Homo sapiens: one gene and its partner. The protein of the gene in region 2 interacts with the protein of the main gene of each other region in a biochemical or structural test. Each region holds a gene or a part of one and is shown on either strand. Other genes may lie near its edges.

What was found. Proteins that work in one complex are often made in the same cells at the same time.
Region 1: the proteins of ERCC6 (region 2) and IDH3G form a complex in vitro, tested with the Homo sapiens proteins (one large-scale study listed by BioGRID).

What each region holds. Positions count from the first base shown.
Region 1 is NC_000023.11:153,791,527-153,795,785, forward strand, and holds the start of IDH3G (isocitrate dehydrogenase [NAD] subunit gamma, mitochondrial isoform a precursor), read right to left. Parts: upstream 2,801-4,259; coding exon 2,720-2,800; exon of another isoform or gene 2,633-2,719; intron 1-2,632. Other genes in the region: SSR4 (translocon-associated protein subunit delta isoform 4 precursor), read left to right, coding at 2,799-2,865, 3,148-3,228. UniProt on the Homo sapiens protein: Regulatory subunit which plays a role in the allosteric regulation of the enzyme catalyzing the decarboxylation of isocitrate (ICT) into alpha-ketoglutarate.
Region 2 is NC_000010.11:49,466,122-49,469,621, forward strand, and holds part of ERCC6 (DNA excision repair protein ERCC-6), read right to left. Parts: intron 1-3,500. UniProt on the Homo sapiens protein: Involved in repair of DNA damage following UV irradiation, acting either in the absence of ERCC6 or synergistically with ERCC6. Involved in the regulation of gene expression.

The DNA.
Region 1 (4,259 bases), on a different chromosome or scaffold from region 2:
CTGACTGGAAATGCCGGACAGCTTCAGAGCCAAAGCTGCCTGAGCCAAATGTGCCAGGTGCCAAGTGACCTGCTGTCCTGGAAGAAGCCCCACCTAGAACACACCTGAGACGGTGGCAGAGCCAAGGTCTTCCCTGTCACTTGGGGATGCCCTGCCACTTGACCACCAGGCAGCAGCAAAGTGTTCCAGCCAATGGCAGAAGCATCATAGCCATTGGCCAAAGAGCCATGCCTTCCAGCTAGAAGTCCAGAAAGGCTCGGGCGGAGTCTGACCTCTCCCTGTCTGTGTGTCCCTGGCCGGCACTCATCAGTCCAAGCCAGGGGCTAGGAGAGGGTGCCCACAAGGACCAGAGCCCCGAGGATAGCTCAGCTGATCTGTGTGGCACCTGGATCTGCAAGCACAGGCACGGTCGGGACTTTTCTGTCTTCTCTCTAGCGCTTATCAACGGGTCGGGACTTTTCTGTCTTCTCTCTAGCGCTTATCAACATCTGAAATCATCTTATTTGGGGGCTCTTGTAAGCACGCAGAAAGCGGCTTCGATGGACCTTCCTCCAGGGAGCTTTCCCTGATGCCCTAAGGCTACTGAGCTGGGACCCTAAGGCCCTACTTACCCCCTTCCCTAGGTTATCACTGCATTGCTCCCTCCTCAACCCCTGAGCCCGAGAGGAGGGGCCAAGTCAGTGTGGTCCAATACTGTCACCCTAGGACCCAGCACAGTACCTGGCCCAGAGCTGGCACATAAGGAACATTTCCTGAGTGAACAAGCACATCAGAAAATGAAAAAAGATCTGGAGACTAGGGAGGCCTCGGTCCAAATCCACCATCCACTCTTCTTGAGATGGCTTCATGGCCTCATCTGAAATTCACAGAACGGAGGTACCTACTTTCCGTGACTGTTGGAAAGATTAGGGGACAGGAGGTGTGTGAGCTGCTCACAGTAGCTAGTGCCACACAGCACGCCTGCCCCTTCACCCCACTGGCCCCTCAGGTCAGAGTTCAAGGCTGGTGTCCCTGGGAGGTCACGGGTGGACCCCTGCAGCTCCCAGCAGTAGTTCCTCCTGGGCTTCAGCTGTGGCAGCAAGCCAATCTCCTGAGAGCATGGACCTCCCTCACAGATGGCAACATCACCACCAGGGCTGAGCTGAACCTCTCTGCCACCCGGTCCCTGTGCCAGGTGTTCCTTTGGGCTTTGGCAAAAGACCCAGAGAGCGCTCCAGATGGACTTCCCTGACCTTACTGTACAGATGCAGGCACCTTCCTTCAGGAGGTCGCAAAGGCTCTGCCTTGTGCCCTGACTTCCCTGTGAAGCCACCAATCAAAGGAGCCAAGTGTGAGGCAGGATGCAATATGTACACGCCTCCCGCTCTCCCATCACCCTTTCATGGTTCCATGGAAAGAAAGAACATCCACACCCCACATCTTATGCCTGCTGAGGCTTCTGTCTTTGGCATATTTCTGTTGGACCATGTGTCAATGGTGGCTGCATGTTTTCCTATGGCGTCCAAATCAGTGGGATTCAAGACCTGGGGTTCCTCTGTAAGGGTTCTCACACCCAGGACGGTCAGTCTCAGGGCAAGGCACTGCCCAGCTACCCACCGTTCACTGTCCCCTACTCCCACCCCAACGCACACACAGGCACACACACAGGGGAGGTCAGGGAGGAGGCACACATGTCTTCACCAAGAGCCTACAGGAGCCCAGTTGCTGGAGCCATCAGAGCCTCTGGAAAGCCACTATATACTGCCGTCCTTTCAGCAGCAAGGTGGGAGAAGTCAGCATCGTCAAGAGAATTTCATTAGGCACAAGCAGTCTCCCCCAGAGGTCAGAAGGAGAAAACATGGCAAGTAGAGATGTCCCTGGGGAGTGGCCGCAAAGTCACGGAGTTCTGGAAGGTCAGAGTTGACAGGATCCTTTGAGAACATGAAGTCTCCTCCCCTCTGGGTTCCAAAGGGGAAACTAGAACCCAGAGAGAGGAGGAAATGGCCTAAGGCCACGCAGTGGCTCAGTGTGGGAGCATGGCCTAGAGGTCAAACCTCTTACCCATCAGGGCCAGGTGCTGGCTGGCAGCTGCTTCAGATGGTTTCCAGCCCACCTAGGACCTAAATTAACCTCTTCTTAAATAAGTGTAAGGAAAGAAGACTCGGACCTGAATACGCAAGACCGCACACGGAGAAGAGCAGAAGCAAAACCCCCGCAGCCTCAGAAACCCTAGCTCCTTCCCATTCCAGGCGCCTCGAGGGGAAGGCATCTGGGGCTCTAAGACTGGGGGACTATGGGGGATGACTGGCAAAGTCCGGTTCTTTGCCACCGGGATAGGTGGCAAAGCGGTCCACGAGAGAGGAAACCGTGGAGAAATTTGAGTCCCGGAACCGGATTCCCGAAGCGGTTTGAGAAAGGCGGGCCGGGATACGTGAGTGACTGCCTCAGAAGGGCTCCTTCAAGGACACTAAGGAGGTGACAGCCGCCGTGGCCCACTCTCCCGGCCCGTCCGGAGGGCCCCCCGCCACCCGATGCAGACCCCCTGGGGGAGCCGGTCCAGGGCCAACTTCGGCCAATCCCCTCAGTGACAGCGGAGGCGGCCAATCAACCCCGGCGCGAAGCCCTTTCCCCGCCCCTGGTGGGGCCCCTAGCCAATCGGACTCCAGACTGCTTCGGGTGCGGCTACCCCACCGCTCCCCTGCGACCGCTGCCGCGGTCCCGTGGCTCTTTCCCTGCTCACCTCCCAGGGACGGCAGAGAAGGGCTGGCCCGAGCACCGCCTTCGCGGCGCTGCCGGCGACGGTCGCTACCTTCAGCGCCATGACGGAAAGTGAGAGCCTCCGCACGTCCCGACACGCAGATACCGCTCTCGCGAGAGTTCGACGGGGTGCGAAGTTTCGGGGACAGGCGCGGACCCGGTACTGCGCACGCGCGCGGTCGCACCGATTCACGCCCCCTTCCGGCGCCTAGAGCACCGCTGCCGCCATGTTGAGGGGGGGACCGCGACCAGCTGGGCCCCTGGCTCAGGGAGGGGCCACGTCAGTGCTGCCAGAGACGTCACAATGCCGGCCCAGCCGTTCGGTGCGCGATTGGCTGCCGCTGCCACTTACGCGTCGCTCTTCCTCGTTTGCCCCTCGTGTTCATGGGAGCTCGTTTTCTTTTCCTCTAGGCAGAGAAGAGGCGATGGCGGCGATGGCATCTCTCGGCGCCCTGGCGCTGCTCCTGCTGTCCAGCCTCTCCCGCTGCTCAGGTAGCGGCCCAGCCGGGGCTTCTTTCTTGCGAGCCTCTGACCCACGGCAGGTGGTGTTGGGGGCAGGAGGGATGCGGGGGTCCGGCCTTTCAGGGTCCGTCGCTGCGGGCCGGGCCTTCCCCCGAGAGGCAGGCGGCCTTGGGACGGGGGGACCAAAGCACCTCGCGCACGTTTACCGGCAGCCAGGCTTTTCCTTGTCTGCCCATACGAAGAGGAGTCCCCGAGCCTCCATGGTGCGCCCGGCCCCCAAGCTGCAGCACGGAACGTGACACATGTCCCGGCTCCCGCTCCCTGCGGGGTCGGACCGGAGCGAAGCTCTGTAGCGCTGAGCGATCGCGGCCAAAAACGGGGCTGGAGGAGCCACATAAGCTAGGAAGGGACCTCAGTGAGGAGAGGGAGCAAGAGCGGGGCGAGTTAGATGGGGAGCCAAAGGTGCGCAGGGCCTTGAGTGCCAGGCCGAAGACTGGCTTTTCCGGAGGGCCCTGCCTTACCCTTACCAGAGTTTTCGGCAGAGCCGACCAGGGGTCCCGTCGATTTGCATTCGTGAGGGGCTGAGGTCTGAACTCCAGAGTGTGTTTAGGAGGTGGCTGCAGCAGCCAGCCCCGGGCCCGGGGGCCAGGACTGGACAGGGGCGGCTTTCTCCACATTCCCTTTTCTGCCGTCCTTCAGGCCAGTAGCCTTGCTGCCTGCAACGTTTTGGCAGCCTAACTGGCCTCCCTTTCCGCACACTCCTCATCTGCCCCTCAGGAATTCCCTGAACTATAGTCAGGGACGTATCCAGAGGACAAGCCTGGCCATAAAACCCTTCGGGGGCTCCCCTGCGCCACAGGAAGCAGGCCCAACTTAGGCAGGACACAGAAGGGCTGGCGGGATCTAGCCCCTGAGAACTGCCTCCACGCTGTTCCTAGGGATCTGCCTCCTGTGGTCCAGACCCAGAGCCTTCTCTGACGTCCTCTGCTGAAGCCATCGTTCTGCCAGGGCACCACATTTGGACAGCGGGTGGCTGAGAACATTCCCACTTTGGGGAGCCT
Region 2 (3,500 bases):
TAGCACACACTGAAAATATGATGAAGGGTGAGAAAAAAGAACTAAGTTATTTTTGACTCAAGTAGTGTTTTGACCAAAAACTTAGACTAAAGACAAAAAGAAATAAAAACAAATATTGAACTTTAGTTAGTATAAATAAAAACAAATATTGAATTCTAGTTAGTATAACTGTTTCTTGCCATAGTTCAGGTCAGAAATTGTAAAAAGCTACCATGTATCCTAGGATTGACAAGTAACTCAGTACGTTGTGAATGAAGGTCTTGAAGAAGGAAGCTACAAACATGGAAAGGGCCCTAGGGTGCTGAAATGAAATTGGAGACAACAGTATTCCCTCATCTTATTTTGCTTTTTGGAGCTTATTAGAGTGTAACTGATATGCAATAACTGCTAAAGTACAGTATTTGGTAAGTTGTGACATTATGTACATACCATGAAACTATCACTACAATCAAGACAATGAACATAGCCGTCACCTGCAAAACTCATGTCCCTTTGTAATCCCACCGTCAAATACCCCATGCCCAGACAACCAATCCAATTTCTGTCATGACTGTGTGTTTTCTAGAATTTTATGCAAACGGCATCAGAGTATGTACTAATCTTACTAGTCCGAAAGTCATCCATGCTGTAGCATGTATCAATACTCTACTTCCTTTTATTGTTGATTAGTATATATATTTTTTGAGACGGAGTCTTGCTCTGTCGCACAGGCAGGAGTACAATGGTGTGATCTCGGCTCACTGCAACCTCCACTTCCCAGGTTCAAGCGATTCTCCCGCTCAGCTTCCCAAGTAGCTGGGATTCCAGACACCCACCATCATGCCTAATTTTTGTATTTTTGTAGAGATGGAGTTTCACCATGTTGTCCAGGTTGGTCTCGAACTCCTGACCTCAGGTGATTCACCCACCTCGGCCTCCCAAAGTGCTGGGATTACAGGCGTGAGCCAAGCCCCACCTGTCGACTAGTATTTGATCATATGGATATGCCATGGTTAGTTTAACTATTTACTTGTTGGTAGACATTTGATTTCTACATTTTTGGCTATTACTAATAAAGCTGCTACGAATATTCATGTACAAGCCTTCGTATGGACATATTTTTCCATTTCTCTTGGGCAAATACACACCCAGGACTGAAAAAGCTATATCACAAGGAAAGCGCATGCAACTGCCAAACTGTTTTCCAAAGTGATTGTGCCATTTTACATTCCCACCAGGCGTGTATGAGACCCAACTGCTTCACATCTTTACCAACACTTAGTATGGTCAGTCTTCTTTCATTTTAGCCATTCTAGAGGGTGTATAGTGGTATCTCGTTATGGTTCTAATTGGCATTTCCCTAATAACTAATAATATTAACAAGTTTCATATATTTATTTGCCATCTACATATCTTTCTTGGTGAAGTCTGTTCAAATTATTTGTCCATTTAAAAAATTGGGTTATACATTTTATTATTTTTTGACATGGGGTCTCGCTCTGCTGCCCAGGCTGGAGTGCAGTGGCATGATCACAGCTCACCACAGCCTCAACCTCCCAGGCTCGAGCAATCCTCCCAGCTCAGCCTCGCAAGTAGCTGGGACCACAGGTGTATGCTACCACACCCGGCTATTTTTTTTTTTATTTTTTGTAGAGATAGGATCTCACTATGTTGCCCAGGCTGGTTTTGAACTCCTAGGCTCAAGCAATCAACCCACCTCAGCCTCTCAAAGCACTGGGATTACAGGCTGAGCCACCACACCCAGCCAGTAATTTTTTATTGGGTTCCAGACATTGTGAATTTCATCTTGTTGGATGTTGGGTATTTGTATATTCCTGTAAACACTCAGGTAGGGCTGAAGCAGTGCTCACTCTAAGGCTGATCATTCCCTACTACAGAGGCAAGACCCCCTACTCTGTATCATACCCAATGCCCCATGAAATATTTTTCCAGTCTTAGCTGGTGGGAACAGGCACTATCCCTGGCCATGGGTGAGCACCAGACATGTTTCCTCTAATTCGAAAAGTTAAAGAGGAAAGGCCTTTTCACTGACCTTAAGTAGTTTTCTTGCACAATGTGCTGGTCAGTATTCAGCTGAGTGCCAGTGGAGACTCTGCAGACCTGTGGGGTTCTCTCCCTGTGCAGAGCTGTCTCCGCTATCGTCTCTTGCATGTGAATGCCAGCCACCCTGGCCTCCCCTGATGCTCAGCTCTGCCTTTTCAACAGAGGGTCTGCCTGGACTCCCATCTGGGTTCTCCCTCTTTCTGTTACAGCACGAAAATTCTCTCAAGGCAGTAGGGCAGGGCAACTGGAGAGCTCAGTTCATTTGTTTCCCATCTCTCAAGAGATCACTGCCCTTTGGTGTCTGAAAACCATTGCTTCATATGTTTTGTCATTGTTTTCATTGTTTCACATGGAAGGGTAAATGTTAATCTGCCTTTGCTGGAAGCCAAATTCATGGTTTTCACAGACATAGAGACAGGTGTATCTGTGCAATTTGTTGTGCATATATATGCACGTATGTATGTGTATATGTATGTACACAACAAACACATACACACACATACATACATCTATTTCCTGATACTATTGGCTACGAAAGCAATGACATAATAGCAGCAATGAACACTCTGAGAACCCGGATCCTAGTTCCTAAATACCATTCTCCAGGGTTCCTTGAAGAAATGGCTGATTCCAGGGCTGGCACAGAATACAAATTGAGCTCAGCATATATTAGTATGCCAAGAAGAAAGGAGGTGCTCAAAGAATGGTGGGGACATACCAGAGGGACAAAGGAGCCAGCTTGAAGGAGCTCCCACCCATGAGGCAAATCTAAGACAATACGAGCATCATAATACCCCTACTAATGGATTACAGTCATGGAAAAAAAAAGAATCCATTAGTCCACACTGATCTAAAAATAAATTAATAAATAAATAAGAGAGAAGGAAAACCTTCCTTACAATAGAATGTTAATCACCATTTGGCAACCATTGTAGTAATAACTGACTGAGGAAAGAATCATCAATAGATATTAAAACTAGTGGATAAAAGTTTGATGAGAAACAGGATATTTACACAGTCTCAAAGCATATTCCTTGAAAGCACAAATTAATTACAAAGGTAAAAATATTAACCTTAGCATTGAGAAACCTGGCAGACTCCACCTTAACCAAGTGATCTTAAAAATCAACTTGTAATAGGTCAAACCAGCATGTGTCTCCTGATAGATGCACTGAGTAAGATACGGTATCACCTCTGTGGCATTCCTACCAAAAAAAAAATGTATGCATAGATGGGTGTGTGTGTGAATGATAAAGCAAAAGCTGAAAAATGTTAATAACTTAGATAAAGGATATAGGAGAGTTCTTCGTATTATTCCAACTGATTTTTTTTTGAGACCCAACTGATTTAAGTTTGAAATTACTTCAAAATATGAAATTAACAAAAAAATTAACCATGCTAAATAAAAGTCTTTCTGAAATGCTACACATAAACCTGCCTTCTTAAACTGAGTACCA